2 separate regions of the Homo sapiens genome follow, and region 2 is linked to region 1. The links come from fine-mapping of genetic effects on gene expression. A gene starts in region 1. The other region holds a variant in brackets. All regions are shown on one strand. Distances are between the middles of the regions. Region 1 holds the start of CTTN (cortactin). Region 2 overlaps SHANK2 (SH3 and multiple ankyrin repeat domains 2).

What was found. PIP is the estimated chance that this variant, and not a neighbour inherited with it, causes the effect.
Region 2: its variant is fine-mapped to the expression of CTTN in whole blood (TOPMed, PIP 0.99).

What each region holds. Positions count from the first base shown.
Region 1 is chr11:70,390,875-70,407,217 of GRCh38, forward strand. It overlaps CTTN (cortactin), which reads left to right and starts at 7,655. Exons shown (of 18, transcript NM_005231.4): 1 at 7,655-7,740; 2 at 14,391-14,487. CTTN-DT (CTTN divergent transcript) reads right to left here and starts at 7,588. Exons shown (of 3, transcript NR_186321.1): 1 at 7,224-7,588. RefSeq lists enhancers at 400-1,169, 6,951-7,020, 9,869-10,163 and silencers at 5,985-6,173, 7,271-7,320, 7,421-7,930, 8,512-8,581, 13,305-13,484.
Region 2 is chr11:70,461,809-70,478,151 of GRCh38, forward strand. It overlaps SHANK2 (SH3 and multiple ankyrin repeat domains 2), which reads right to left. Exons shown (of 26, transcript NM_012309.5): 26 at 6,046-11,631. The coding sequence ends at 11,061. Among named protein-coding and RNA genes, the nearest start is that of CTTN, 71 kb to the left of the region's middle. RefSeq lists an enhancer at 8,432-8,641. The variant A/G (reference allele first, on the strand shown) is at 8,478.

The DNA of each region.
Region 1 (16,343 bases):
CAGGCCCCAAGAGGGGGTTCTTGGATCTTGCACAAGAAAGAATTCAGGACAAGTCCACAGAGTAAGGTGAAAGCAAGTTTATTAGGGGAGCAAAGGAACAAAAGAATAGAGCAAACCTTTAGAATAGAGCAGCCCCAAGGGCTGCTAGTTGCCCATTTTTATGGTTATTTCTTGATGACATGCTAAACAAGGGGTGGCCGATTATTCATGCCTCCCCTTTCTAGACCACATAGAGTAACTTCCTGACGTTGCCATGGCATTTGTAAACTGTCATGGCGTTGATGGGAGTGTAGCAGTGAGGACGACCAGAGGTCACTCTCGCCGCCATCTTGGTTTTGGTGGGTTTTGGCCGCCTGCTGCTGCTTTTTTTTTTTTTTTTTTTTTTTTTTTTTGAGATGGAGTTTCACTCTGTCACCCAGGCAGGAGTGCAGTGGTGCGATCTCGGCTCACTGCAACCTCCGCCTGCCGGGTTCAAGCAATTCTCTGACTCAGCCTCCTGAGTAGCTGGGTTTACAGGTGCCCGCCACCACGCCCAGCTAATTTTTTTGTATTTTTAGTAGAGACGGGGTTTCACCATGTTGGCCAGGCTGGTCTTGAACTCCTGACCTCATGATCCACCCACCTCCCAAAGTGCTGGGATTACAGGCATGAGCCACCACGCCTGGCTATGGCCGGCTTCTTTACCGCAAGCTGTTTTATCAGCAAGGTGTTTATGACCTGTATTTTGTGCTGACCGCCTACATCATCCTGTGACTTAGAATGCCTCAGTCATCTGGGAATGCATCCCAGTAGGTTTCAGCCTCATTTTACCCAGCTCCTATTCAAGATGGAGTTGCTCTGGTTCACACGCCCCTGACAATTACACAGCCATTGATACGGTATGTAAACCAAAAGTGACTCTTAAGCACCCCCAACCAACTGAATAGACCCTTCCCCCTTGGCCAAGAGGATGCCAAAGAAACCTGAAAAACTGGCCAGGCACAGTGGCTCACACCTGTAATCCCAGCACTTTGGGAGGCTGAGGCAGGTGGATCACGAGGTCAGGAGTTTGAGACCAACCTGACCAACAGGGTGAAACCCCGTCTCTACTAAAAATACAAAACTTATCCGGGCATGGTGGCACAGGCCTGTAATCCCATCTGCTCAGGAGGCTGAGGCAGAGAATTGCTTGAACCTGGGAGGTGGAGGTTGCAGTGAGTCGAGATCATGCCACTGCACTCCAGCGTGGGCAACAGAGTGAGATTCTGTCTCAAAAAAAAAAAAAAAAGAAAAGAAAATCTGAGTCCACCTATGCCCTGTAAGCCCCCGCTTTGAGTTGTCGCGCCTTTCCAGATGGAACCAATGTATACCTCACATGCACTGATTGATGTCTTATGTCTCCTTAAAATATATAAACCAAAGCTGTAACCCAACCACCTTGGGCCCATGTTCTCAGGACCTCCTGAGGCTGCCTCATGGGTCATGGCCCTTGCATTTAGCTCAGAATAAATCTCTTTTAATACTTTCCAGAGTTTGGCATTTTTTTGTCAATATGTATATGAAATATACCCTTAGGTTTTCTGTCTAATATGTTCTATGCTGTCCCCTGCTCCCACCCCACGATCATCTGCTATATTTTCTTATCCGTTGCTGTTTAAAGACCCACCCCAAAATGTAACAGTAAAAAACAACCAAGATTTATTGCTTCTTTTGATTCAGTGGGTTGGCAATCTCGGTGACTTTTTTCCTTTTTTTTTTTGTAGATGGAGTTTCACTATTGTCACCCAGGCTGGAGTGCAATGGTGATCTCGGCTCACTGCAACCTCCACCTCCCGGGTTCAAGTAATTCTCCTGCCTCAGCCTCCCAAGTAGCTGGGATTACAGGTGCCCGCCACCACACCCAGCTAATTTTTGTATTTTTAGTAGATACGGGGTTTCACCATGTTGCCCAGGCTGGTCTTGAACTCCTAACCTCAGGTTATCCTCCCACCTCGTCCTCCCAAAGTGCTGGGATTACAGGCGTGAGCCACAGCGCCCAGTCCCATTCCCATTTTTTTTAAATCAGAGTCACTCTGTCACCCAAGCTGGAGTGCACTGGCATGATTATAGCTCACTGTACCCGTGAACTCCTAACACCTGGGCCTAAGGGATCCTCCCACCTCAGCCTTCTGAGTAGCAGGGACTACAGGCATGAGCCACATGGCCTGGTTCTAAACATAATTTTAAAATCATACTCATGTTCTACAATATAAAATTCAACTTTAATAATTCATGTTCCCATTGTTCACAGTATTGGCTTTCTTATTTATTTTATATTTTGAGACAGGGTCTCCCTCTATCATTCATGCTGGAGTGCAGTGGCGAAATCATGGTTCATTGGCAGCCTTGACCTCCTGGGCTCAGCTGATCCTCTTGCCTCAGTCTTCCAAGTAGCTGGGACTGTAGGCACAGGCCACCACACCCAGCTAATTTTTTTAAAGTTTTGTAGACACAGGGTCTTCACTATGTTGCCCAGGCTGGTCTTGAACTCCTGAGCTCAAGCAATCCACCTGCCTCGGCCTCCCAAGGTGCTGGATTATAGGCATGAGTCACTGTGCCTGGCCTTTGGCTTTCTTATTTAGTATTCATTTTTACAATCCCTTTGGAACTTACATTCTAGGTTCATTTTAATTAGGAAATGTTTCATTTTCTCTCTTCCTCACTGTGTGTGACGCTGTCTGTCTCCCTGTTCTGCAGTTGCCTCAACCTCTCTGTATTAGGGTGGGCTAAACATCTGGAACAAATGGACTCCAAACGCAATATCTTAAACACAACAGGATTTTCTTTTGCTTTCACGTAACAGGGCAGGGTGTATGTCCAGGTCAGGCAGAGGAGGAGAAAGGGATAGTAAGGAAGATCTGTTCCACGCAGTCTTGGAGGGATGCAGGCTGGTGGGCTCTGCCATCCTCAAAACAGGGCTTCCAAGGTTGTACCTGTCACCTGTAGTAGGCTGAATAATGGCCTCCAAATATGTCTGCATCCTAATAGTCAGAACATGTGATGTTGCTTTACATGGCAAAAAGGAGTTAGCAGATGTCATGACATTAAGGATCTTGAGATGGGAGGATATTCTGGGTGGGTCTGAAATGGGATCCCAAATGTTCTTGTAATAGGGAGGCAAAGAGACATATCCGTACAGAGAGAAAACAGGTGTGAAGATGAATGCATGGGTCTGAGGGATGCAAGAAGCTAGAAAGGCCACAGATGGTTCCTCCCCTAGAGTCTCCAAAAGGAACAAGCCCCACTGACACCTTGACTTTAGCCCATGAAACTGATTTCAGACTCTGGCTTCCAGAGCTGAAGAGCATATATTTGCATTGTTTTGAGGCACTGAGTCTGTCATAATGTGTTGCAGCAGCCTAGGAAGCTGGTCCACGGTAGGAGGCAGCCCCGGGGAGGAATGATGGTCCAGGCTCAGAAGCCATGCATGTCACCTCCCCTCATGTTCCATGGGCGAGAACCTGGCCACATGGCAGCTCCCAACTCCAAGGGAAGCTGGGAAATGTAGTAGAGCTGGACACCCACATGTCCACTTAGTACCGAGGAGGGTGGGGGCGCTGGGTGGACAGCTACATCTCCGTCACACGTGTTGTATTGAGTCCTACAGCCCTGCGTGGTGGTGCAAATGCCCCAGGTCCCATCTGCACTCTAAGTCAGGGACTGGTTTGCTCAGGTCCTGGACATAAGGCTGTCTGGACATCCCTCTTTGGCTGCATGGGTTTTTAAAATTTTTCTTTATTTTTATTTTTTTGAGACAGGTTCACACCATGTTGCTCCAGCTGGTCTTGCACTCCTGGGCTCAAGTGATTCCTCCCACCTCGGCCTCCCCAAGTAGCTGGGACCACTGGTGCGCCCCTGGCTGCGTGCTTCTTTTACAAGCGTGGGTGACCCAGGCCCAGCAGCTTTGCAGTTGCAGGCCCACTCAGCACTTTGCATTTCTCTTCATTTCTGGCTCACAGAGATATCACTTTTGTTTTGTTTTGTTTTGTTTTTTTGATAGAGTCCCGCTGTGTCTCCCAGGCTGGAGTGCAATGGCGCGATCTCAGCTCACTGCAACCTTCACCTCCCGGGTTTGAGCGATTATCCTGCCTCAGCCTCCCAAGTAGCTGGGATTACAGGCGCCTGCCACCATGCCTGGCTTATTTTTGTATTTTTATTAGAGACGGGGTTTCACCAGGTTGGTCAGGATAGTCTCGGACTCCTGACCTCAAGTGATCCACCTGCATCGGCCTCCCAAAGTGCTGGGATTACAGGCGTGAGCAACCACGCCCAGCCACCAGTTTTGTTTTTGTTTTTGTTTTTATTTTTTGAATTTTAGTAGAGATGGGGCTTCACCATGCTGGCCAGGCTGGTCTCAAATTCCTAACCTCAAGAAATCCGTCTGCCTTGGCCTCCCAAAGTGCCGGGATTATAGGCATGAGCCACGGCGCCCGGCTTCGACCTATTTTTGAGCACAGCTATACTTCTTGCTTTGCAAATTTTACACTGTATGTGTAATTCCTGTGGCCAGCCTCAGTCTCTGCCACACATTCTCCTGGGGAGCACAATGGGCATGTGGAAGAGTGTGCTGCCCCTTTCTCTCTGGGAGCCACTCTGAAGCACCCTGCTCTTCACCGGCAGCAGACTGGTCTTTCTAAGCCACGAACGCTGCCCTCCTGCTGAAAAGTCTGCAGTGAGCTTTGTCTTTCCTTCTCTGTAAAATTAGCCCAGCTAATTTTTGTACTTTAATTTTAGAGACGGGGTTTCACCATGTTGGCCAGGCTGGTCTTGAACTCCTGACCTCAGGTGATCCACCTGCCTTGGCCTCCCAAAGTGCTGGGATTACAGGCATGAGCCACCGCGCCTGGCTGCTATATTTTCTTTACATGTTTTCTTGAATAAAATACATTTTCTTCAACCTAAAAGTTCATTTTTCCAATTTTAATAGAAATAAGAACATTTCCGTGGGCGCCCAAAGATATGTCCACAGCCTAATCCTCAGCACCTATGACTATGACCTCTTATGGCAAAAGGTGTGACACAGTGAGGGACTTGAGAGGAGGGGTTTGTGCTGGATCAATACAGTCACAGGGCTCCCTCTGAGATGGACACCACCGGCTATGCCTGCTTTTTTGACTAGATGATTTCATACCTCTGTAGAGGCAGAAATTAACCTTTAAAAAACAGGCAGCAATGTGGCCTGGCAATGTGGTGGCTCACACATGTAATCCCAGTGCAGGAGGGTCACTTGAGCACAGGAGTTCGAGACCAGCATTAGCAACACAGCAGGACCCAGTATCTACAAAAATATTAAAAAATTAGAGGCCGGGCATGGTGGCTCACGCCTGTAATCCCAGCACTTTGGGAGGCCGAGGCGGGAGGATCACCTGAGGTCGGGAGTTCGAGACCAGCCTGACCAACATGGAGAAACCCTGTCTCTACTGAAAATACAAAATTAGCCAGGCAAAGTGACGCACGCCTGTAATCCCAGCTACTCGGGAGGCTGAGGCAGGAGAATTGCTTGAACCCGAGAGGCAGAGGTTGCAGTGAGCTGAGATGGCGCCATTGCACTCCAGCCTGGGCAACAAGAGGGGAACTCCATCTCAAAAAAAAAAAAATTAGCTGAGTGTGGTGGCACGTGCCTGTAGTTCCAGCTACAGCTACTTGGGAGGCTGAGGTGGGAGGATCACTTGAGCCCAGGAGATCGAGGCTGCAGTGAGCCTTGATTGCACCACTGCACTCCAGCCCCTGTCTCTAAAGATTAAACAAACAAACAAAAAAAAACAGTCAGCAATGTAAAAAAAAAAATTTTTTTTTTCAGAGATGGGGTCTATATTGCCCAGGCTGGTCTTGAACTCCTGGGCTCAAGCAATCCTCTGGCCTTGCCGCTCAAAGTGCTGGTATTACAAGCCTGGCCAACAATCCTTGTGCACAGAAAATGCAAATTAGCTGTGTCCAGTTAAATGCAATTGACCTTTGCACTAGAGATAGAGCAGTTTTTGCAAATTCATTTCAGCATTCGTCTTCCGTTTTTTTTTTTTTTGACACAGGGTTTCTGTTGCCCGTGCCGGAGCGGTCCTTTTGCCTCAGCCTCCAGAATAGCTGGGACCACAGGTAAACGTCACCATGCCTGGCTAATTTTTTTCTTAAAAAAAATTTTTTTTTTTTGGTAGAGACAGGGTCTTGCCATGCTGCCCAGGCTGGTCTCAAATTCCTGACCTCCAGCAATCCTCCTGCCTTGGCCTCCCAAAGTGTTGGGATTACAGGCGCGAGGCACTGCATCTGGCCAAATTCTTTAAACAATTTGTAACAACTTATGATGTATTCATTATCGAGTTAAATAAAATATTTGACGTGTTCATTTTATATGTGTATGAAGGTCATGATTTTACCTTTAAAAAAATGGTCAACACCTGACATTTCCTTCCGCCACCCGCACTTCCAATTCATCCTCACATCTGACAGTTTAGCTTTCTAAATGCCTCTTGCATCTATCCACTTCTCCCCATCTTACCTGCCACCAGCGGTCTGCCCGAATTGGCTACATTAGGCTCTACCTGGCCCTTCTCCCATCCATCTTCCACACAGCAGCCAGAGTGATCTCATTACAATTCAAACTTCATTATGTCTTATTTATTTATTTAGCGATGGCGGGCGGGGGCGAGGGTCTCACTATGCTGACCAGGCTGGTCTCGAACTCCTGGCCTTAGGCGATCCTCCCATGTCAGCCTCCCAAAGTGTTATGATTACAGGCGTGGGCCACTGCGCCTGGCCCAAACTTCATGATGTCTCTTATCAGCTTAACTTCCTCCGAGGACTTCCCGTGTCTCCCAGAATAAAGACCGAGGTCTTCGCTGTGCTCTATCGGCCTCTGCATGACCTGGCCCCTCTCACACCACAGCTCCGCTGCACCACTAGCCCTCTACCATGCTGAGCTGAGCCTCCTCCAGTTCCCCTGCTGCAAGACCGTTCCTGCCTTGGGACCTCTGTTGGCCCTGCTGTTGGAACCTGCTGTTGGCCTGCCTGGAAAATTCTTCCCTCCTTACCTTGTTTACTCTTATAGGGCCTTCACATCTTGGCTAACATGTGAATCGCCCAAAGAAACCTCTGGTCTCCCAGGGGTTCAGGTCCTACCGTCTCCCCAATACGATGTTATGAAACTCTCACTTCTTGGCATTTATCTCATTTCCCAGGTGAGTACCCATGTGGTTTAACGCTTGACTCACCTTCTAGGCTGCTATGTCCCTGTGGCCGGGGCTCGCGTCCCTGGCACGCATGTGGCCCTTTCTTGGAGGGGAGGTGCATGGTGAGCGGACGAGGACGGCTGAGGGCGCGCGCGGAGGGAGGATGGAGAGATGAAGAGGCTCCCCGCTCCCGGACTCAGGGCACGTGCGTCTCCTCGGCTGGCTTCCTTCCCCCGGCCCCGGGCAGCGCCGCGGATCCTGAGACCCCGCCGCGGGCTGTGTGCTGCTCAGCGCCCATCCTCTGCGCGCGCAACGCTACTTCCGGGCGAGCTCTGCAGACTCGCCACAGGCCGGGCTAGCGCTTAGCCAGCTGCGGGCGGACCCCCGGGACTCTTGCGGGCCAAGACGCGGGAGGAGGCGGGGCAGGGGGCGGGGTCGCGCGGGGACCCGGATGCGGCCCCGCCCCCGCCCTCGGAACCGGAAGTAGAGCCTGGTGCCTGGGAGCGGCTGGCGCGGCGGAATCCAGGGCCGACCCGGGCCGGACCGACCCCAGGCGGCGGTGAGCGAGCGCGGCGTCCGCCCGGGGTGCAGGCCGGGCTCTGCTTCTTCCCTCCTGTGGCGTCGCCTGGCCGCGAAAGGGGAAGGAAGCGGCGGCCGCAGCGGTCTCACCGCTCTTCCGCTTGCGGTTTCGGGGGCCGGGGCAGAGTGGCGAGGCTTTCCCGGCCTGGGGCGGGGCAGGGCGAGGGCCGGGGGTCCGCGAGGGCCACGAGGACGGGTCTGGGCCCAAGGAGGCCGGGCAGGGGGCAAGGGGGCACGGAGGGCTTGGGGCTGGGGTCCGCGGAGGAAGGTTAGAAAGGGGCCAAATTGGGGTATCAGCTCTGAGGGGAGGGTCCCTGGGCGCCGGGGGGCTCCAGGGCAGGAGAGGGGCCAGGCTGGGAGGGGTCTTGGGTCCGAGGGAATAGGAGAGGGGGATGGGCTCCGAGGGGGAGGGTATTAGGGCCCGAGGGAGAGGGGCTGGGCCTGTGGGGTTCGGGGGTCTGAGCGGAGGGGGCCGGGGTTCGAGGGGCCAAGGAAGGTGGGTGTGGGGGGTCTCAAGGAAAGGGCGAGGGGTCTGAGAGGGAGGTGTCTGGGTGCAGAGGGAAAGGGATGAGGTCCGAGGGGAGGAGATTGGGGTCTGACGGGAAGGGGTCCAGGCGCAGAGCTACTGGGATGGGGTCCGAGGGAAGGGAATTGGGGTTCGAGGGGAAGGGGTCGGGGCTCGGAGGAAAGGTATAGGGTCCGAGGGGAGGGGATTGGGGCTCCAGGGGAAGGGATCCAGGCGCAGGGAAAAGGGATGGGGTCCGCGGGGTCAAGGCGGTTGGGGTGCGCGACTTTGAGGGGCTCGCTGTGGGACGTGGCGGAGCAGCTGGGGATCCGCCCGGCCTGCACCTGAGCGGAGGTTTTGCAATCAGGTCAGTGGAGGCAGCGAGGCGCGGCTGCAGCTAGTCGTGAGGCTCTAAATTTGGAACCGTCCCTCCTTCGGGGTGTGTTTAAAATCACCAGAACGGTGCTTTGGGGCTTTCTGTTACGTTTCCATCACCTGGATAGTCTAAGGGATGCCTGATCCCTGAAGCTGGAAGGCCTTGGGTGAGAAGGGACAGGGCTTCCTCCCGCTGGAATCTGTGGACGTTTGGGGCCCCTTGGGGAGGAATTCATTTTCTGCTGAAGGAAGCTCCGGAGGCATCCGGTGAGCGCTCCCTGGAATCCCATGCGCTCCCTTTGGGCTCAGTGTTGACTTGGCTGCGCAGGCTCTGTCGGGGGGACTTCACCCACTAGGTCCTTCAGGCATGATCCAGCCCTCAAGCCCGGCCGGGCCCAAGGCCGTGGCGCAGGAGGGGCTGGCCGCCTGCCCCTGTCTCCATTCACGTGTTTGACCGTGTGGGTGAGTCACTGGCTCCAGAGCACTGAGTCAGTCCTGTTTCTCCTCTGGTTAGAGAAGTATTCGCCAGATACTCAAGGAACAAGGAAGAGTCTTTTAAGTGGGACTCAATAAAAAGTTGGGGAGGCAGGGTTGTTTTGATATTAGGTCCCCTAGAACTAGAAGCTAACCTTCTGCTATATCTTACTGAAAAGAAATTTCTTTTGACCTGGGGCAGGGGTGCGGTGGCTCACACCTGTAATCCCTGCACTTTGGGAGGTCAAGGTGAGAGGATCGTTTGAGGCCAGGAGTTCCAGACTAGCCTGGGCAACACAGGGAGACCTTGTGTCTACAAAAAAAGAAATTCGCTGGGCATGTTGGCTTGCACCTGTTGTCCTAGCTACTTGGGGCGCTGAGGCAGAGGATCTCAAGCCCAGGAGTTGGAGGCTGCATTGAGCTCGATCGCACCACTGTACTCCAGCCTGGGTGACAGAGCGAGACCCTGTCACCCAGGCTGGAGTGCAGAGGCTCTTCACAGGTGCCATCTAGCACACTGCAACCTTGAACTGCTGGCCTTAAGCGATCCTCCCACCTCAGCCTCCCAAGTAGCTGGGACTGCAGGCCCAGCTAAAGCTGACTTTTAATTGTAGCATTTTGATGGACTTGTTTTTAAAACACTTTTAAAATGACAGCACACATAATCGGCAATTCAGATCTTCAGTCTGTGCCACGCAGTAGGTGCTCAGAAAAGGTGTCCTGAGAGTGTGAATTGCTGTGAGCGCTGGTTGCTGCCTTGTGTTGCAGTATTCCCATGGCCTGGGCCAGCCAAGAGCAGGGGACTGTGCTCCAGGAGCAGGCTTGGCTTTCACTGTGGCCCAGGCCCACCCCATCTGCTCACGCACTGCTTTGAGTAAACGGAGTAAATGTTGGGGGCGGGGTTTCCCTTGAGTAAGTGTGGTGTAGGGAGTGTGCCTGTGATGGTGATTTTGGCTACGCAAGTGTCTGTTTCCTTTCTCCTCCTGCTCTGCCATAGATGCTGAGGCTAATGGAAAGCTGATGGTGGACGGATGGTTCTGTCCTGTCATTTAAAACATTCTTCTGCCAGGCTCGGTGGCTCACACCTGTAATCTCAGCACTTTGGGAGGCTAAGGGCAGGTGGATTGCTTGAGCCCAGGAGTTTCGAGATCAGCCTAGGCAACATGGGGAAACCCCATCTCTGTTAAAAATAGAAAAATTGGCCGGGTATGGTGGCTCACACCTGTAATCCCAGCACTTTGGGAGGCTGAGGTGGGCAGATCACGAGGTCAGGAGATTGACACCATCCTGGCTAACACAGTGAAACACCGTCTCTACTAAAAAAAAAAATACAAAAAATTAGCCGGGCGTGGTGGTATATGCCTGTAGTCCCAGCCACTCAGGAGGCTGAGGCACCAGAATCGCTTGAACCTGCGAAGTGGAGGTTGCAGTGAGCCGAGATCACACTATTGCACTCCAGCCTGGGCAAAAGACTGAGACTCCATCTCAAAAGAAAAAAGAAAAAGAAAAATTAGCTGGGTGTAGTGACAGGTGCCTGTAGTCCCAGCTACTCAGGAGGGTGAGGCAGGAGAATCGCTTGAACCCAGGAGGCAGAGGTTGCGGTGAGCTGAGATCACACCATTGCACTCCAGCCTGGGCAACAGAGTGAGACTTCGTCTCAAACAAAAAAAAACAAAAAAAAAAAGAGAGAGAAAAATCAGCTTGGTGTGGTGGTGCATTCCTGTAGTCCTAGCTACTCGGGAGGCTGAGGTGGGAGGATCACCTGAACCTGGGACACAGAGGTTGCAGTGAGCTGAGATTGTGCCTCTGCACTCTAGCCTGGGCCACAGTGCAAGACCCTGTCTCAGAAAAAAAAAAGAAAAAAAAGGCTGGTGGGGGGCTTTTAGGCGCGGTGGTTCGTGCCTGTAATCCCAGCACTTTGAGAGGCTGAGGCTGGCAAATCACTTGAGGCCAGGAGTTGGAGATCAGCCTGGACCAACATAATGAAACCCCATCTCTACTAAAAATACAAAAAATTAGCTGGGTGTGATGGCGCATGCCTGTAATCCCAGCTACTCGGGAAGCTGAGGCAGGAAAATCACTTGAACCTGGGAGACAGAGGTTGCAGTGAGCCGAGATCGCGCTGTTGCACTCCAACCTAGGCAACAGAGCAAGACTGTCTGAAAAAGAAAAAAAAAGTTATTGTGTAGAGGAATTTTTCACTCTGTCTAGACAGCAAGATTACTTCACGTTTGTGCAATCTTGATTTGTACACTGACGTTTGCAAGGAAGGTTTAATGTTGAGGATGGACAGAGTCATTATCTTCTTTTGAACCGTATTGTAACAGCTTTATCGAGATATAATTCACATACCATACAATACGCCTGTGTAGTGTGTACTCTCCACTGGTTTTTAGTATCTTCATGCAGTTGTACAACTGTCACCACAGTCAATTTCAGAATAATTTTATCACCTCAAAAAGAAGCCCTTGTACCTTTTAGCCATGACCTCCCTATCCTCACCACCACCATCCGCCCAGCCCTGGGCAACCAGCAATGTATCTTTTGTCTCTGTAGATTTGTGAACTCCAGACATTTCCTAGAAATTGAATCGTATAATATGTGGTCTTTTGTGCGTGGTTTTCCTTTGCGCAATGGATTTGAGGTCCCTCCACGCTGTAGCAGGTGTCACTGCTGGATCCTCTTTGTGGCAGAATAAAATGCCTTTGTGTTAGGTAGACCACATGTTATGTATCTATCAGTTGATGGACATTTGGAGTGTTTCTGTTTTTTGGCTGCTATGAATAGTGCTGTTCTGAACACTCACGCACAAGTTTTTGTGTGCTTATACTTTATTTCTCTTGGGCATAGACCTAGGAGTGGAGTTGCTGAGTCATACAGTACCTGAGTTTAACCTTCTGAGGAACTGCCAGACCTTTTCCATTTAACATCCCTGTCAGCAGTCTATGAGGCTTCCAGTTTTTCAACACTGTTGCTGAGATTTGTCATTGGCTGTTTTATTTTAGTCATCCTAGTGGGTATGAGGTGGGTTCTCATTGCAGTTTTGATTTGCATTTCCTTGGTGGTTAATGACATTGAACAAACTTTTCCTGAGCTTGTTGGCCATTTGTATATCTCCTCTGAAGAAATGTCTCTTCAGATCCTTCAATCATTTTTAAATGGGGTTATTCGTCCTTTTTATTGAATTATAAGAGTTCCTTTTTTTTTTTTTTTTTTTTTGAGATGGAGTCTCACTCTGTCGCCAGGCTGCAGTATAGTGGCGCAATCTCGGCTCACTACAGCCTCTGTCTCCCGGGTTCAAGCAGTTCTCCTGCTTCAGCCTCCCAAGTAGCTGGGACTACAGGCATGCGTCACCACGCCCTGTTAATTTTTGTATTTTTCGTAGAGACGGGGTTTCACCATGTTGGCCAGGATGGTCTCGATCTCTTGACCTAGTAATCCGCCCGCCTCGGCCTCCGAAAGTGCTGGGATTACAGGCGTGAGCCACCTCACCTGGCCAAGAGTTCTTTATATATTCTGGATCTACAGTTCAAAATACTTTTCTCTCAGGATCGTCTTGTCACCTTCTTGATGAAGCACAAAATTTTTAATTTTGTACAATTTATTTTTTTCCTCTAGTGTTTTGGTGTCATATCTAAGAAACTATTGCCAAATTCAAAGTCACAAAAATTTACACCCTTTTAGGATTTTAGTTCATTTTTGAGTTAATTTTTCTGTATGGTTTTGAGGTAGGGCTCTAGAGGCTTTTTATCTTTGGATCCACAAAACAATCAAACTTATTTCCTATTGGTTATTTTTGTGATTGTTTTTTAAATTTCCAATATTGAGAGTATAAAATTGTGGATCTGAGCCTATCCTTAGCTGCTCATGAGTAGATTTTTATTATTTACTTTATGATTGATTTATGTATGAGACAGGGTCTCTCTCTGTCTCCCAGGCTGGGGTGCAGTGGTGTGATCATGGCTCACTGCAACCTTGAGCTCCTGGGCTCAAGCAGTTCCCCCACCTCAGCCTCCTGAGTAGCTGGGACTACAGGTATACACGACCATGCCTGGCTAAATTTTTAGGCAGAGTTGTATAGATGCTTGCCGATTACACTAATAACTGCAGTAACCAGAATGTAGCAAGCAATCTGTAGAAGTTAGGATTGCCGAAGGGAACTGGGGAGAGAGATGGAGCAAACAGTTGGGTCAGAAACCAGATAGGAAATTAATTAATTACCAGGAGGGCCAGCCAGGCACCATCCCCTAGTTCCTAATGCGTGAGAAACCACTCTGCCTGTGACCGGCTTGTTCCTAGGGACAAGGGGATTTCATTCGTCCATGTGTGTTGTCTAGCAGTATGGTGTCCAGTTGAGGCTGATGTGTGGTCCTAGGGAAGGGGTCGTGTGCTTGGCCACCCTCTGGGGAGCTGGAGTCTTGCTCCCTGCGCGGTAACCGTGTACGTTCATTAGGAATGCAGCCCGCCTCCTCCTCGGCTCTCCAGCTGCCAGTCTCATGTCTTGATAGACAGTCACCATACTGGTTTTTCCTCCCGGCCATATCATGATCCTCTCAAGGAGTGTTTTTCTTATATTATTGTTTTAAAAAGCTCACAGTAACAATTTTATTTTATAATGTCATTAATTAGAATGAATAAAAAGTGAAAATCTCTAAGAATTATGGCAAACAGTAAATGCATACTAGCAATTAAGGCAATAATTTCTGTTTGCATTCATAAGAAACATCATGTAGGCCGGGCGCCATGCCTCACACCTGTAATCCCAGCACTTTGGGAGGCCAAGGCAGGCGGATCACCTGAGGTCGGGAGTTTGAGACCAGCCTGACCAACATGGAGAAAACCCGTCTGTACTAAAAATAGAAAATTAGCTGGGCGTGGTGGCGCCTGCCTGTAATCCCAGCTACTTGGGAGGCTGAGGCAGGAGAATCACTTGAACCCGGGAGGTGGAGTTTGCGGTAAGCCGCGATTGTGCCATTGCACTCCAGCCTGTGCAACAAGAGTGAAACTCCATCTCAAAAAAAACAAAACAAAAAAGACAAAAAGTCATCATGTAGTTAGAAATCTTTTAAAACTTATTTCTTTAGTTTCTCTCTGTTGAACTTTTTTATTAGTAAAATGCAAGTCTTCCCATCCTCCTCTCAGATTTCATTACAAAACCTTGTTACGTTTGGGAAGATTTCTGAAGTTTTCTAAAAAGATCTCCACACAGAAGGGTTTGCCCAGGGAGCTGCTCAACATACATCCTTCTCAGCTTTTTACCCTTAATCTTTTTACAGACGGAATCAGTCCCCAATGCCTGGAAATTCCTCATTGGATTACTGTGTTTTAAACAGAATTTCGTGAACAGCCTTTTATCTCCAAGCGGAAAGAAAGGTACTTGTGCATTGTGAACATCCTAACATTCTTTTCCTGTGGATGGTAAGGGCAAAAATCCCTTTAACAGGAAACGGGGGAGGTTGCTGTTTCTGTGGATTTACTGGGAGAGAGATGATAATATTCTGGAAGGAAATTTCATTGTTTAAAAAATAAAGTCAGGTTTCTGTTGCATATGACTTAGAGGAGACAATTGCAGAAAACTCTGGAATTGAGGAAGAGAACCATTCCTGTCCTCCCTGAGGGGAAATCTGGCCCCTTCCCCACCCCATGAACATGGGTGGGGCCCCCAGGCACAGGATTGTGAAGCTCGCAAGTGCCCACCCCGCTCGCTGGTGAAGCTGTGTCCGGGAAGATGAGCAGAGACTGTGCTCTGCTAATCTCTCCCCGATGAGCCTGAAAAAGTACCAGGCAAAGACACCTGCCGCCTTTCTCCTTTGCCTTGGGGGTGAAGGTGGCCTCGCCAGCCCTGCAGGGACTCCCATCCTTTCTTGCAGCCACCTTCTCAGTGGTGGGAACCATGGGCAGCTGAAGTCCTGCAGGCGGGCAGCCCCCTCGCCAGGGCAGCATGGTGCCATGGGGCGGCCGGAGACCAAGCATCCCGTTTCTCTTTCCTGCAGCCGTTGCTTCATTTATAAATGGGCGCGTTGGGACAAGATGGACTGGTTGTGCCTTTCCGTTCTGAGATTCTAGTTCATCTGTTTTCTAAAATCCTGGCAAAAGCAGATCACTCTGGAAATTCTTGCCATGCTTTGGGCATTGACAGAAGGTTCCAGGGGCACTGTTAGTCCTGCTACACCCCTTGGCAGACGGTTCTTCCCCAAGAGACAAAGTCGCACCTAGAAATTTGAGAGCACGCTGCCCTGATTGGTCCCTCACTGTCACATTGGATTTGGACTTGAGACCCAGCCAGGCTGGAGGGAGAGGAGCCAGATGGGACATTCTCAAGCTGCGAAGGGGTTTTGTCCAGTCCTGATTCAGGGCGCTAGAGTCCCAACATGGCACCTGAGAAAAAGTGAATTGGGTGTCCTCAGTTCAGACCCCTGGGCACAGCTTATGGTTGTTTGATTTAAAATAATCTCTCAGTTGCTCTGTGGCCTATGTGTAATTGTATTACTATTTCTGTGGAAAAGGAATCACTTCTTTTTATACATAGTTTGAAAAAAAAAAAAAAACCTTAAAATTTTATATTTTACCACTGCAGTTACAAGAATTGTCTTGTTAGGGTTTACAGATGTGCCATTGTTCTGTATAACAGAGAAAACCTTCCAGTCTTCAAGGGCTGAGGGAGAAGGTGGCTGCCCACTTGCAGAGCTGCCTGATAGAGGAAAAGGTGGCATTTTATATTCCTGTTTTCTTCCAAGTAGAGAGTAAAGCAATTCTCCAATAAACTACTTGAAACATTTATTAAATTGTAAGTCTGAATTAGGAAAATTATTGTTATGGTTTCAGTAAGCACTTGAAATCAAAATGGGTGCACTTTTTAAAAATGTGTGATAAAATACACATACCATGAGATTTACCATTAGTAACATTTAGTATATTTATAATACATAATCCAAAATGGTGCTTTTATTTTTGGTTGGAAACTATCATCATATGATTGAACAGAACAGGAATATGTTCTTAATGAATAAATAAGTGCACACACGACTTTTTTATTTTCCAGAAAATTTTCTCACTCAAGGTGAAGCCAAATAGTATTTCCAGTATATTTCTGACGTCAGGTGACGGCAGTGTTAGAACCCCGAGGTGAAATTTCTTTTACTCCTGTGGTTGTCAGTCAGGCTTATGGATCATGAAGGATTGGCTGGTCCTGCAGCCTCGTCCTCCTGGGTTGCCTAGAATCTCGGTAG
Region 2 (16,343 bases), 71 kb after region 1:
TTCTGTTTAGGGTGATGGAACTAGGTAGTGGTGATGGCTGTACAACATTGAATTTATCTAATGCCAATGAACCATACACTTACACATGCTCAGTGAGGACACTCCACCTGAACACACTCTTGCTAGCATCTGCCACGTGCCCACCCATTGTCCATTCCCCTTCTGCCTTGCTAACATTTTGTCCTCCATCCCACCCACCCCATTTTGTTCCTGGCAGCACAGTGCCAAGCTAACCACTCACTCTGCCAGTCTGCCTTGCTTCTAATTTGCTGCAGACACCATTGTGGCTGATGTGTTGGTAGACATTTCTGGGAAAGCATTGACTTTTCTGTTAAAAGAGAGAGACTTGGCTGTCATAGTCTTGTCCCTTCTTCCTACCTTGGAAGAGAATGTCGTGTGTGGAGTGGCAGCAGCCTTTGGGTGCTGTGAGGTGGTAAGTTTGAGGGAATCTGAGACTTGACACTGTTGAGCTGTCAGACCAAAGCCGGGAACCACCCACCTCTTCTCCAGCACATACTAAGAACATCCTATTCTAGGTGCTGGGGCAGTGAACAAGACCGACAAATCCAGGCCCTTCTGGAGCTTACATTTTTGTGTGATATGAAAAGAATAAACCATTATTTGTTTAAATTGCTTTTAATTGGAGTTTCTGTTATTTGCAGCCAAACATGATATCAACAGACACAACTGTTTACTTCCATTGTTTGATCTACGTCCAGGGGTCAGAGTGAAAATGTTCACATCTGTGTTAAGGTGCCCTGGCCACATAGCTAACAAGCTCCAGAACTTGGATGAGGACAAGAGTTCTTTGAGGCTGGAGCCCTGACTCTGTTTCAATACATGTCCTCTTTATATCTGTCCCACCGCTCTGCACAGACCCTGCCTAGGGTCTGTCTCGTGGGTTGAAGTGTATGCAGCAGCACCATAGTGATGTGAACACCACACCTTCAGAGGACTGGATGTAAGATGATACCGTAATAGCGAAAAGTGGTCGTTATCCCGAATGCCAACTAAAAGGACATTGTCAAGGACATCACACCATACCACTCAATGGGATCTCACACCACCATTTCCATGAAGGGCTGGGGACTGACGGCCATGCAAGCAAGGTTTGGGGGCTAAACGGAAGCCAAGGAAGCAGGAGTGGAGGTGTAGGTGCGTCATGATTCAATGCAGGGAGAAGGTGGGTGTTAGGACTGGAGGTGAACTCAGCTTGGTGGCAGGGCTGTGGCAATTCTCCATTTTCCAGGGTGTGCCTAATGTGGTTACATAGCTTTGAAATTCAAAGCCATAACTCTTAAACAAACCTCAAACATGTGCACCCCCACACTGAAGGAGGGACTTCTCACTGCTCCCTTAGGAGGATACAGGCACCTAAGGGGACATCAATATCCCAGCTCCCTCCCAGGGCACCTGCCTCGTCTGTGGACCCGCCTCCTGGTCCCAGGGATTGGCTGATAGCTGCCCTGCCTACTCTAGCTCAGCCAATCGTGGATCCCCATTCTTTGCCAGTGATTGGTCAATGTGAGGCATGTGACCAGTGGGCCCAGAGTCCTCTGCCCGCCTTGTTCAAAGGCGGGAGTAGAGTGCAGGCCAGGCTCAGAAGGTGGGATGGCGGCCGTGGGTGGCTGCATCCTGCTTGGGACCTGGGTGAGGTGGCGCGGGGGTTGTTGGGGGGAAAGGTGGGCCTGGCTTTGGCCCCTTCCAGAGTGGGGGCCCCCAGTGACCAATCTCCTCCCCGTTCTGTGGCCCTCGCCCTCACCCAGATCCCTGGCCTGGGAGCCGGGGGCTGCGGGCCACGAGGAGGGCGAAGGCCCCGCCGCTGCGGCGTGAGGACGGCTTCGCACGCGGGAGCAGGCCCGGCGCCACCTGAGCTCGGCTGCCTGCGCGGAGGCGCCCTTCGCCTACTGAGAGGAGAATGAGGGTGAGTAGGGGCGCAAGTGGAGCGTGCCTCGGGGCTGTGGGTGTGGATGCGCTGGCAGGTGTGGCGGTTTGGGTTCTGCAAACCCTCCCTACGGCGGCTCTCGGGTCCTGGAGCGAGACGCCGGGTGCACGACGCCAGAATCACTGAGGTGCCGGCTCCCCGCGGTGAAGGCTCCAAGGAACGCGCCTGGGCCCGGCCGGCGCGGCTGGAGCAGCAGTTCTCCGGCAGCCCTGCCCTTCCTCGAGTTGGGCCTTTGAGGGGCCTTGGGGCCTCCCGGGGCGGCGGCCTTGAGCCATTAGTGTTGGCTGAAGTCTTAATGACAGGCGAGAGGTGGGCGGAGACATGGGGTTTGAGAGGCTGTCGTTTCCATAGGCCGAGGTTAAGCCTAGGCCAGGTGAGGTCTCCGAGGCGCCCGGCTAGAGTCGGGCCAAGGCTGGAATCTTTGTCCTCATTCAGGGACGCCTTTGCGGTCTTTGAAGCTACGCTCAGGTGAGCCGAGGGCAGACACTGTGTCTCCTTCCGGAAGCTGGGGGTTGCGATACGCGACCCCAAACACCTGATTTTGGGAGAATGGCTGCACTCCCAGCCCCTCCACTGTGGGCCTCGGTGCACGAGTCGCGCACCCTCCCAGCATCCCCTTAGTACCCCAAGGAGCTGTGGGACTTTCCACTCACTGAAACGGGGCCAGTCTATACAGGCGTCTTTCCCTTGTGGAGCCCAGCTCCGTGTGCCAGAAACAGACTCGTGGGGTTTGGGGGTTTCAGCCCAAGCATCCGCCCAGAACACAGTCTGCTTCTGCTGCGGCCGCTGAGAGGACTAGGGAAGTGTTCCTTTCCACACCCTGGGACAGGACGGGCGAAGTCCGTGGGTCTGGTGGCCTCGGGGAGCAGGGCAGGTGGAAGACTCCCAGGCACTTTCCAGGCAGGGGACTAGGAGGGCCCGTGGAGGGGCAGGCAGTGCTCCGAGCCTTTGGGGAATCCCCTCTTCCTTACCAGGTGTCTGAGGACCAGATGGAAGCTGCAGGAGTGGGAGTGGCCACAGCATGGGCACAGCTGCAGTGGGCTGAGGCTGTGAGGGGGCCTCTAGGAGGGGCTGTCCCTGCAGACATTGCCTGGGCCAGGGTTACAGCAGTGCATGAAACAGGCCGTGCCTCCCCCACGGGGATTGTCTTCCAGAGGCATGTGTGGGCGGGGTGGGGCGGTGGGCACTAATCAGTGAGCAAGTAAGTAAAGCAATAAGCCAGTGAAGGTGGCAGTAAGTGCCCTGGGGATGTGGGAGGGGGTGATGGCAGTAAGTCCCATTCTAAATCAGGTGATCTGGGAAGCCATGTAGGTACGGGGACCCCACAGGGAGGCGGCGCTGAGGTGGCACTGTGGCTGGAGCCAGGTGAGCAGGGAGGAAGCCCGAAGAGGAGGGTGGGTGGGGCCAGATGGCTCTGGACCTGGTGGGCAGAGTGGCAGAGCTGAGGTCAGTGTGGCCGTCTCTGTGTCGCTGCTATGAATGCACAGGTGGCTTGTGTTTCCTGCTATTTCTAGACCTCTCTTTTTGTGGTCTCCTTCCTTCCCACCACACTCTCCACTTAGCCCTCCTGGGGCCTACCGGAGAAAGCTGGTCCCATGCCTATTGGCGAGGGAGGCTGGTCTTTCCCAGCAAGCATGCTGGGTGTTAAAGGTCTCAGGCTGTGTGGTTTTCCCTGGAGCCTCGATGTCTCTATCGGGCACCTTGTATAAACTCCCACTTGTGAAGATGGAGCGTTTCTTAGCTCTCCCAGGTGGCTCCAAGGCCAGGAGGGCAGCTGGCCATGCCCTTGGCGTTAAGTGGAGCTTCACAGCTGCATGGGGCTGGCAAGCCATTTCCAGGCTCACTCGGGAGCCATGAGACCCCCATCTCATTCTTCATTAGCTCCGCCTTTCTCTTCTGCCAATGGGGGTGACAGTGGAAGGAGAGGAAAGGGCTGCCCCAGTTCTGACTGGCAGAGGGAGGCCGTGGGCTGTGGGAGAAAACACATCATCATCGTGGGGGGCTAGGAGCTCTGTCATATGGTGGTTGTAAGCAACAGAAATGGGCTCTGGCTGGCTGAGGCCACAGAGGTGTGTGTTGGGAGGGCTCTGGGCAGTTCACAGCCACAAGAGGAAGGCTTCATGGAGGACCTGGGAAGGACTGGCCTCGGGCAACTCTGCCCCCATGGTGAGGGCCCACAGTCTGGGGATAACTTGTGTAGGTGCCTGGAGGCCATGGGCAATGGCAACTGGTTCTCCAAGCCTCGGTGTCCTCGTGAGAAAAGGAGATAGTCACCTCAGTGATGCTTAACCTCATAGGATTCTTGTGGGAATTAAAGCAGATCCATGTGTCACATGCCCTCTAAGCCAAGGGGACTTTACAAATGTTGGGTCCTTTCTCTGAGAAACAGGGGTTTCTAGGTCTTGGTTCTCCTGATCCCAGTGGAGTGAATTAAGGTAACCAGATTGCCACTGAATTCGGTCTTCGTTTTCCACAACCCTGAGGTGATTCAGCTGGTAGGGACTCCCCCCTTGCCCCGCCTCCTGAATTCTTAGCCCTGCACATATGACGTCAGATGGGGCAGGGAGAGGAAGCACCCTGTGGGTGGAGCAGATTCGGAGCCAGCGATGGTTCCCAAGGCCCCGGGCTGGGTTCTGTCACCTGTAGATAGACTTGGGAAGCTGCACAGCAACCTCTGCTTCTCCACTTGCTGTGGACCTTGGCAAGACTTAGTTTCCTCATCTGGGAAATAGGGCTTTAGTTGTTACCTCACAGGGCTTTTAGCCACGTGGTGGGTGCAGTGATCTGAACGGTGCCCGTCCCAGATAGCACTAGGTAGACTGAGTGCTGTTTCCAACCTGTACCGCCTCTTGGGTATACACACAGAATGCTTGTGCTTGTGGCCACCTCTGCAGGGCTGCAGGGGCTATGTGTTTTTCCCACTCCCCGGGTTCTGGGGTTTGGAGAACACGCTTAATTCTGTTTTTGCAGTCATCTTGGGCAGAGATGACTACAGTTGGGCAATGGCAGGATGGCTTGCCTTCCAGGAGCACCGCGTCAGAGGGGCCGGCCCCCAGATGCAGGTGGCTGGTGAGGGGTCTCCACACTCTGTCCTGTGAACTGGGCCATTTCCGTGGTCCCTACCTCATGGGGGCCTAGGGCCTGGCTGCCAGGTCTTACCCAGTGGCTGTGAGCAGTGCCAGGGCCCCTCCTCTGGCTCTCAGACACATGCTTCATACTTGGAGCGGAGGTAGCAGCACATGTGGAGCAGGGTGACCAAGAAGCTTTGGCCACATCTCCCTGAGCACCCTGCAGGTTCTTGGATTATTGGCTGCATTGTTGCCTGAAACTACACAGTCTGAATTCCAGTGGACTCTTCTGGCTGGTAAATAGCCACACCGATAATAGTCTGTGAGCTGAGCAGGCACAGTGGGGAGTTCTGGATCTGAGTAGCTCCTCACTCCCTGGAGAGATGTGTGTGGCAGGACAGCCTGTGGCAGTGCTCTGCCTCCAGAACTTCTGCGGCCTGTTTGCGGGGGGGCCCCCGAGAAGATGGGGCTGCTGCCGCTCCCATCTGTCCGGAATCCCACAAACGCTCACTATTGCTGTGGCTATTCTGGTCCCACAGGCAGATGGCAGCCCTAATATGCTCACTACACCGCAGGCTCATCCTCTAGAAAGGCAGAGGCTGCTCAGGGAAGCTTCGCACTTAAAGCAAATGGAGCATGACAGCATTGAGACAAGAATTACACTGATGTACTTCTCACATCGTTTTTTTGTCGAAAGAAAAACACACATGTTGCCACTTTCACTTGTGAAAAATGGAAACAGTTTTCCTGCAATGAGTGGCCTCAATCACTAAAAATGAATTTGTGTATATTTATAACAAAACGTCGAAATGATTGATATTGATGGCTTCGTTAAGCATTACCAATGAGTACCACCGGGGGGCGGCACAGCACAAGGGGAGTAGGTCAGAGAGCCCAGGGCTCCTGTGGTTAAACTTTTCTCCTTTCCATGAAAATCCTCAAACACATTTTGTATTTTAATTAAATGAAAATACTGAAAATGATACAGTAGAGAGCACTTTTAATGGAAAATTAATTGATAACACAATCTTATTTCAATTTACTTTTTATTTTTAACTTAAACGACTGTGTATTTTCCACAGTCTTATGATGAGAAAGGCTCCAGAATCACGTGTAGGTGTCCTCAACATTTCATAGCTCGAACCGTCCTTTCTTTACGTTGTGCATTGATATGGGCTTCTCAGTTCAGAAAACAAGGCACTATAACTATTTTATCAGCTACATTAATACATTGAAGATATATTTATCCTTTCATGAAAGATACAGCATTTGAATACAATATGGTTTTATGCAGATCAGGTTCAAAACACCCAAGGCACACACTTTATTTTTTTTCCTTTTTTTTTTTCTTTTCTGTGTTTATTTGAAGGCTCGTATTAAAATTTCAAAATTGGCATGAACAAAGAGTTCCAGAGTGGAATCAATGGACAGGGATTGTTGTAATTTTGAACATAAAACGGTAAAGACTGTGGAATGTAGAACAAGTTACAGGAACGATAAACAAAATCACCAATACAGCATGGATTAGAAATCAAAGTGATGAGATCTGCGGAAGTCTGAGAAACAAGTTTGGAAATTCTCTGATTCCCCACAAAGCACGGGCAGTCCTGTCTGCATGCAGCTGCTGTGGTCACCCAGCCACTGTGGAATGTTCACCTACTTGCATGGGTTCATGGTTGTCTACAAATACAGAAACACATTCCAGTTCGCCAGTTATTAAAATGCCTCCAATTTCAAGTAAAAGAAAAAATCTTCCAATAATTTTCCTAGTAAGGTAAACGAATATATTCATCTAGGAAAAGTGGTCTGGAAGAAACCATTGGAAGCAAAGTCTAGGGGGGTGCCAAGGTTTGGGAGAAACTATTGGATGGTGAAGCGGGAGAGCTTGAGGGTGAACTACAAAAGATATGAGGACTGGAATTTTTCCTGAACGTGGAAGCATAGAGGCTGCTGCTCAACTGGGGAATGTGCCAAAGTAGAAGAAACTTTAGGAACTAAAGACAACAAGTTTTCACTGGTGAGGCCAAAGAAGAAGTTCAACGTTTAGGTTTAAAATATGCTTCCCTAAAGCGGAGGGATGGCCCATGTCTTCCTGGCTTAGTTCTTTGCCAATAGACACAAATTCTCTCTTGCTCCAAGCCTTAGCATGTGGTTTGCTTGTCAACCAGAGAGGCGGCCCAGTTCTGCCACTCCCTTGGCCTTATGGCTAGAAGACACCCTGCTGGGGTGTGGGGAGACTGGACCCTAAGGGAAGGGTCCGGATCTGGCTGGCCCTCCGCGGCACCGCTGCTTCCACCCAGAACAAAAGGAAAAGCCGAGCCTCAGCTCCACGCCTATAGCAGCGGTCACAGAAGCAGATTTTGACGTTTTGCATAATTCTGAAATAACATGCACGTATCCATTGATAAATTGAGAATAAGGAAATGGAACCAAGGCAGATTAGCTCAGTGACAGGAGCCTGTTTACTCGATGAGAGAGATTTTTCTGGTCAGTTTTAGAGAGGCAGAGCTGGCCACAATGCCTGAGATAATCTACATTAGATTGCAAGTCGGGCAGCTTTTTGTTTAATTCAGACAGTGTTCACTGTTTGTTTGCAATCAGAACCACAACCTTAGTGCAATAGTATATTTATTTTTTTACAGTAATTTTGGTTGCCATACAAGAGATTTAAGGATTGGGAGAAAGTGCAAATTACAGGAGCTTTTTTTTTTTTTTATAAAGTCTAAAAAGAATAAAAGCACAAAAGTAACAGCAACATAGATAATGCGAACACGTGTTGTTACACAAACTATAGTGTGAAACATATTAGTATTTAAAAAACAAAAAAAAATTGTTAATGGGAAAATCAATATTGTGGCCCACACACAAAAAGTCATTGCCAGATCAACTGGATAATGCTTGCTTGTTCAATAACTGAGAAAAAAATTTACCATTTTATTAACTAAAGTATCACAAATAATTCACTTTGTGATATGTAAAGTTCAGCAAATCAACAGTCACATTGAGTAATTTTTATATTATGTGAATTAACTTAAAATGTGCGCAGACACCCTGGAAAAGGTATCTTGGCAGGTATACATAATTTACATTTTGAGAGATTTGGGTTTTGTATACACAATATTACAGAAACTAGGCATGTAAATGCAGTTTATTTAAATTACAGTATGTAACAAAAGTTGATCTTAAAACCTGGAATAATATCAACATGATCTTTAGATGAGCAGTTTAACATTTGTTCCACCATTAAAGAGGGGCATGGAATAGGGCCTCGTCCTAACATGTCCCAAAGGGGGAGAACAGTGGGTGGTGATTTGAATGAGGAACTATTGCTTTCAGTACCAAAATAAGCAGATAGAGATAGAGACCGATTCATCTTGGCAACATGTGTTTATTTGTTGGTCAGTGCAGGTTCTGATAGGTCTATTACTTCTCTATAATAAGACAGTGTAAAAATAAACTATGTT[A/G]TCAGCTCTTTAGTCTTGCAGCCAGCTTGCTTGTGGTTAGTGGCATGTGGCTTGGAGTATCTTTAAGAAAGGGAATAACATCTGGCCCTCACCAACTGGCTGCCAAAGTTCAACAAACCGAAGTCACGAGTTTCGACTGGTTATCGTCTGCCAGCGGTTTCCTTGACTCTCCTTTGAGCTAGTGTTTTGCCTGGCACTGAGCACAGAGGTAATACCAACTGTAGGCCCAGGGAAAGTGCCATGCCAAAGGAATGGACTCACGGAATTTTGCGGTATCATCAAATGGAAGACAAATTAATGGCCAAACCACCATTTTTACATTTTCTAAAATATGGGGCAGCCTCAGCAGGCCACCTGTAGTATCCTGTCTTGAAATTTATCTAGAGTAATGCTCATTCATCTCATGATGGAAAAACTGAAAGCACACGGAAGTAAAGCGCCTTAATATTCAATTGACTTCAAGTTGGATTGGATCATTTCAAATACAAAGATTGACCTGCAAAAGGTTTTGGAACAGAAGGTCCAAAAACTTGGTTCCAACATCAGGGGTGTGTGACTGGAAAAGCGCGTGTGTGTGGTGTGTGTTTTGTTTTTGTTTTTGGAGAAACTGCTGCATTATGAATTGTAACCACTTTGAAGAAATTGTCCTTCAATGACGAAGTTCTAGCAAAGATAGAAAATATAACACAGCTCTGCTGGTTCAGATGCATCCAAATAAGGTTGATTTAAAAAGGTCATACTTTTATAATTATTCCACAGAAATAGTATTATTAAATCACAAAAGTTTTTTTTTCTTTAACTTTCTAGCACTGAAGTGGCACAAAGGCTGCCTAGTAGACCAGCCACTTTTTTTTCTTAAAATATTGTGCTTATAAACTATCTGTACAACTATTTAAACTTGCAGTAAAGAAAGATTTTAAATTGCTAAATTTTATGTGTTCATTCTAGAGCTGTTCCAGACCTAATCAAGAAAAAAAGGAAAAAAAAAAAACAAAACCATGTTTTATAATTAGAGATGGGCTGAGCTAGTTCTGAAATAATAATAAAACCAAAAACCTGACATTCGAGTATCCTCCAAATGGGGGAGAATGTGCTGGAAGCCTGACTGTGTGTTTTGCGGCCCATGTGCATCTGGTGACCTCTTTTGGAAATTCGAGGTATTGTTATGGGGTGGAGGGACTCCGGGGAAAGAAAGGGGCGGGGCTCAAGAAAGCCTTGCCAGAGAGGCTGACCTGGCAGCCCAGGAGACCTCCCTGCTTTCCTCTCCTCACGCCTCTGCTTTCACTCTGATCCTGCCGCCCACCTTCTGTTCTCAACCCTGGGTTCTGTCTATACTCCATACCCACTGGGTCCTCAAAGAAGCTGTTGTACTGTTAAGACAAGCTGGTGGGATTCCTAGACACCCAGAGCGATAGGGGAAAAGCCTCTAAGTACCATCTTCCCTGGCCTCCGAGAGCAAAAGGACTGTCTCAGCAGAGATGCTCACCCTTGGCTGGGCACAGAACTGAGGATGCTGTGCCCGCCCAGCTCCCAGAGGAGACGCTGTCTCACTGGCAGCCGCATGTGCCCGCCATGAGCCATGCGTCTTCTTGTCCTTCATGTCAAAGTGGATGCTCACCTGCTCTGATCTTTGCAGAGCTCAAGACATCTTCAATTAAAAAGAATTCTGAGAGGCAGAGAAGCCCTTATTCTCCATCCTGGATGGGTGCTCATGGCAGACAACTGCTCTTGTCCTGGAGACCTGGAGCTTGGGCAGTTGCACGCTGGCTGGCTCCCTTGGCCAGGTCTCCCCTCCATTGTGGAATCGTGACTTTGTGCTTTGACTAACTCCATGTGACATCTGCTTGGCCACCTTGGAATTATGCTAACAGATTTGCAGAAATAAAGAAAGCTAAGCAAAGCTGGGCACGATCCCATCCAAACTCCCAGCACTGCCAGGAACCTCATGGCCAAAGAGCCATGGATGCAAACCACAGGAGGAGATGGGGAAAAGAATCTGTGTAGGAAAAAGTTTCTCTGCCTTTCAGGCCCATGATGGGGCACTGGACAAATGCATCTGGGAGCATCTCACTGCAAGCCAAGTGCAGGAGAAAGAGGGGCAGGTGAGCATCAGGTGTCCTCTGAGAGGCCACAGGACTGAGGAAAGGCCTCATGCCGGGGCCTGGGGTGGTGAGAGCTGCCCGGAAAGCAGAGGACGGAGGTCTCAGGAGGTATCTAGAGTGCACTGGTGTCTGCCTACAAGAGCTAGGATCCCGTGCAAAATTGACGGGGAGCCTCTCGGACCCGGCAAAGCGAGGCCACCTGCATGCTGGGCGGCAGGCTGAGAATCTTTTTCCATGTTAGAAAAACTCCCTCCCCTTGTCCCATGTGTGATAGAAACTGCCCAAGACACCCACATGGTGAGCCAGGGGTCTGAAGACCCAGCCATGTTGTGGACACAACTCAGTATTTCTTTGGGTACCAGGAGACAAACCCATGGAGTGGGGTTGATGCTCACAGACTTCGCTTGGCATTCAGATGTTTCAGCACGAGCCCATCTCTACTTATAACAAGAGCAGTCTGCGAGGTGGAGAGCAGCCGTCCTTATCTGTCCAGCAGCTGTTTCAAAGCCCTTTCTATGTTCATTCTGTGCCCGACTCGAGTTACCCCAAGATCGATGAGGTCCTCCTTCTGCAGGTTTGGTAAGTGACTGCCATCGATCTCATTGTCCATGAAGGCCTCTTTATGTTCACCCAAGTTTAGACTTTCCAGCCAATCGGCCACATCTGGTTTAGTCCACAGGTGGACAGGTTTAGTTGTAAAAGGCTTATTTGAGATTGGCTGTTGCAGTATCGAGGGGGATGGCGACCTACTGCGTCCCGCTGGGTTCAAGCCAAATAGATCCCCAGAAGGGGGCTGGCTTGGAAGGCTAAAGACATCTGAGAGAGCGGGAGAAGGAGAGGCGGTGGCAGCAGACAGGGGGGCGGGCAGGGTCTCTTTGTTCATCTCTGTTGGCGAGACCACAGGGCTTGGGGCACGTCTTGTTCCTGAGGTCCTGCTTTCATAGTCGGGGGGCCGGCTCTGCAGGGTGATGGGCTGGGAGGTGCCGGGGCGAACAGTGAAGGTGACCGTCGTGCTCCGTGTACCTGAGATGGTGCTCATGATCTCCGGGCTTCTGAAACAGCAACACAGAGAAAACCATCACAAGGCAGGTCACCGAGTCAGGGCAGCTGGCTGCAGATCACCCAGGAAGGCGAGGGAGACGCCCAAACCATGCCAGAGTGTCTAGTGGCAGATCCACTGGCAGTGAACGAATGATTTGCCATGCCAGGGTGGGGGAGGGGGAGAAAGGGGCCAGAGCAAAGTTGGAGACACCAGAGCACACCACGTCAGCCCACTCACCTGAACTGGGACAGAGGGGCTGGGGGACCTGCCTGTGCTGGGGGGAGCACACCACGTCAGCCCACTCACCTGAACTGGGACAGAGGGGCTGGGGGACCTGCCTGTGCTGGGGGGCAGGGCCGGGGGACCCTCGGGAGGGTGGCCACTGAGGCATTTGGAAGGGGTCCCTTGAAGAGGGCACGGAGACAGGGACAGAGTGGGGTCCTGTCACCTGGGTAGAACGTGCCAGGCAACATCTCCAGCGCCTCAGCTTCAGCAGGTGGGAAGGAGCACACCTGGAGGACAGGCCCCTCAGCCGCCTGGCAGCCTTAGGCTTTTTGGGTAAATGGACAAGAGCAGGGCAGGATCCTTCCCAGGTGGCCCCTTTCAGTAACTGGAACCCCTGTAGCTACGCAGGGCACTCAGGGGTTGAGATCACCCGGAAACCCAGACAGCAGGGCGTGGCTTGTGTGGCCAGTGTGGGCTGCGCTCACCTTCCTGAGGCAGCACTGTCCAGCGCCCACCCAGTGGACAGTTTTGTTGCAGAAGGAGCTGGGGTACCCTGTGTTATTTTTAGCCCCTTTCATGTGAGAGGCTCACTGGTAGGACACACGGGCCTTACTGAAAAGCAGAACGCGTGAGGAGCCCTGTCTTCCCCAGGGTGGCCATGGGCGTCCCCGAGGGTCCCCTGTGCCTTGCCGCTCTGGCTGGGCAGGCAAAGCCCTCAGAGCTCAAGTCAGGGAGGACGACCCTTCTAGCTCCAACCTTTACTGGCCCCAGGGTGGTGGCCAGATGACTCCCACAGGCAGGAGGTCCCATCTCAGTGCCAGAGAAGTCCAAGTCCTCACGCTTACCCACGTGGAGGTGGCCTTTCACACACCACTCCCTCACGGGCTCTGGCCAAGGCCTGTGGCAGGCACTCTCCACACCAAGAGAACTGCCACTCTGGGCCCTAGTGCATGTTTTGCTGTCCCCACACTGAAAGCCCATTCATCCTATTGTCCCTAGGAAAGCCACAGCCACTGGGGAGGGGAGGAGAGGTGTGGGTCTCTTGCCTTTTGGGCCCATTCACGTGGATATGAACGGCCCACCCACCGCTTCTGAAAAGATCCATCCTACCACGGCTCTCTCTTCAAGACCTGGACTTGAGAGATGTCTGCTGGAGCCCTGGCTCTGTCAGATGCCAGCTTGGGTGCACTTTTCTCCTGTCTCCACATCTTCCCACATGAAGTGGGCTCCTCTCCCTCCTATGTGGTGGGTTACCCTGGGTGGAGGGGCTCTGGAGAGCATGAGGAGTGCACTGGTGTGACATCGTGACCGTGAATGGTGGTGGGCTGCAGTGTCTCAGTGAAAGGGTCATGGGCAAGAGGGGGAGAGCTGCAAACAGTAGAGATGCTGCCGTGTGGGGAGACTCCCTGGAGGGCAAGACTGAAGCCCCTGCCCGTCTGCTGGGGGCCAGTTCATCGACTTGCACTGGGGCTGTCTTTGGAGCTCAATGGCTGACCAGTTAGAGCAGCACTTCCCAAAGAGGAGCCCACAGACCCTTCATAGAAACCACCTGGGACACTGGTGGGCCGTGAGGACTCCTGAGCTCGTCTCAAACCTGTGGAAGCAGGAGTGCTGTGCATGGGGACCAGGTGTCTGCAATTAACAAACTCCCCAGACACTGAGAGACCCTGAACCTTAGAGGCCATTTGGTTGGGCCTTGGTTTTCATTCCAGGGTATGCACAAAGCTAATGGCCCAGAACCCTCCAGGAGCTAAAAGCAAAGGGAGTGACCTGGAGACGGGCCCCGCTGCTGGTCTAGTCTGTCTCTCTCCGTTTTTTTCTTTTCTCTTTCTTTACCATGGATGTATATTTGGGTGAAACCACCCATCAGTTACCTAGGTTCCCCTAAGCTGTGGGTCAGTTTCCTACTTGATGTTAGTCACTGTTGCTTAAAGTGTGGACTAGTCCATAGTGAGAAAGGAGGGGCAAATCTGAAAGGGGCCTGTGCTGTGGACTGAGGCTTCAATCCTACTGTGAGAAGTGTTTGCAGGGGCTGGTGGGTGCACTGCTGGGCCAGGGACCCCATCCACCCATAGGGTGTTCACGTGCTATTTTCCAGAGGGCTGGGTGCCCCTGAGTGGGAGATGTTACAAACCAGGCATCCCCATCTAGAACCTGCCCCCACCCTCAATGGTGGCTTGCTGGTCATTGGTTATACTGCTCACACCAACAGGCACAAGGCAGGTGAGACTCTGAGGATTCCTCCACTGTTTCTGGGCCCAGTTACTCACAATCAAGAAATCAGAGGCTGCACACGGTGGCTCACGCCTGTAATCCCAGCACTTTGGGAGGCCTAGGTGGGTGAATCATTTGAGGTCAGGGGTTCGAGACCAGCCTGGTCAATATGGTGAAACCCCATCTCTACTAAAAATTAAAAAAAAAAAAATTAGCTGAGTGTGGTGGTGGGCGCCTGTAATCCCAGCTACTGGGAGGCTGAGGCAGGAGAATTGCTTGAACCCAGGAGGCGGAGGTTGCAGTGAGCTGAGATCGTGCCACTGCACTCCAGCCTGGGCGACTGAGCTAGACTTCTTCTCAAAAACAACAACAACAACAATAAAAAAACCCCCAAAAAACCCGAAATCAAATCAGAGCCCAGTGGGGCTTCACAGCAGGGGAGAGGGGCCAGCACCCTCTAGTATCTCAGTTTATACTCTCAAGAGAGAGGTGGCCTATGGACATAGGATACACGAAAAAACCTGCAACCCCCCCTTCTCTGGTACTCAAAGAAGGTCGAAAGACCAGCTCCAGTTCCAACTTAAAACTGGGGGTGCTGTGGCCTGTTCTTCTGTGTTTATTCCAGAGTCACAAGAGCACAGTTTTGGGGAAGGCTTATTTGTCCACGTTGATAAAACAATTAAGCCAAGATGATTGAAATCAAATAATGGGTAAGTTGAAAGCCACTGCATTCAGAGGTGATTTGGGGTGTTAATTAGGGCCAAGGACCTTGGGGCACAGGGAATGTTTCCTATAAAATGGGAAAACATCTTACAAGAAGACATATGCCCACAGAGGACTAGAGGAGGAGGGGTAGCTGGGGTAAAGTTCTGGTCTCCATGTGCTTTTGCTAAAGCTGACTACATGGTGACTGTGCCTGCAGCCCTGACTCTGGGCAGCTCCACCGTGGCAGCATGACTGGTGCCTGGCCTTGGTGCTCACCAGGCCTGTGAAGCAGAGGCAAGTAAAGCCCCAGAGTGAGAGCACCTACCTCACGCCTGGGCAGTATTCACCACGGGTATCTCTGGCCCAGAGGGTTGCCCCAGTGCTGCCCTCACTGGGAAAATACCCAGCTGTTCCCAGGTAGTTGGGATTGATTTTGGTTTTTGTAAGGAAAGGCTCTGCAGGCAGCTGTGTGTGTGGTTAGGAAGCGAAGAGGAGGCTCTGCAAACACCTCGGTGGGCAGCGGGAGCGCGAGAGTGGCACACACGGGGTCACGCAGCAGCACAGCAGGTGGCACTTACTTCTGTTCAGCACGACCCTCTTCTGTTAACACCGGTCATGGGAGCAAATGAAAATGACAAATGGAATGACTTGAGACAACACTGCAAAAATTAATGAACAAGAAAGGAAGAAACAGAAAAAAGCTGCTTTTCGACAGATGAAATGAAGGCAGTGGGGCAGACCCTGGCTGAAAGCCCATCCGTGGTGGTCCCTTCGGCCTGCCACAGCCTGCCCAGAGCTGAAACATCAATATGGCATCACTTTCATAGGGAGCGTGGGAAACTCACAAGCTTGTCTTCTCCTTCTTTGGCTTGGGATAATGTAACCACTTGTAAAGAAGAAAAATAACCAGGAAAAAAGAAAGAAAATAGTAGCATTGGAGTGAAGTTCGCCTCTGCCTGAAGCCCACTGAGAAGCAGCTTATTGCCAATTTCCTACCTCAGGTGCCTGAACTGTCTTTCCTGTGGCTTAGGGAGGATAAACGAACATTCCTGGTGGGGGAGGGCACCCCAACAGGACAAGTGCTTTGCTTCAAGTCTACATCATGAGATGACAGCCCAGCCGTTAATCACATGGGCGTCAAGTGCTTGGGGCCTGCCAGTGTCCTGCCCCACATTGCTATAGAAAGTAACCGCCTGTGAGTGTGAGACGCAGGGTGAAGGCCACCCTGGGCTGCCCGCCCTGCCCTCCTCAGCAGCTTGACTCTCTTGGTTAATCACATTGATGATATTCACTGGATCTTCCCGGTTGCACAGATGGTTACGTTGCTAAGCAACCGCTGGGTTCCCAGTCGGAACACACAGGAATCTGCTGCCCTGATTTAGAACACAGACACATATACACACTCACACCCAACTCCCCACCAGGTCACCACTGTCTACCCTGCCTTTTAAATCACATTCATGTAGAAATGTGAGAATTAAAAAAAATCAAGGTAATTGAGACACTCAGAGAGGTGCTCTTATTTCATCAGTCAGTACAAGTTAATTGGGGTGAGGTAAGTAAAGAAGCAAGTGGCTT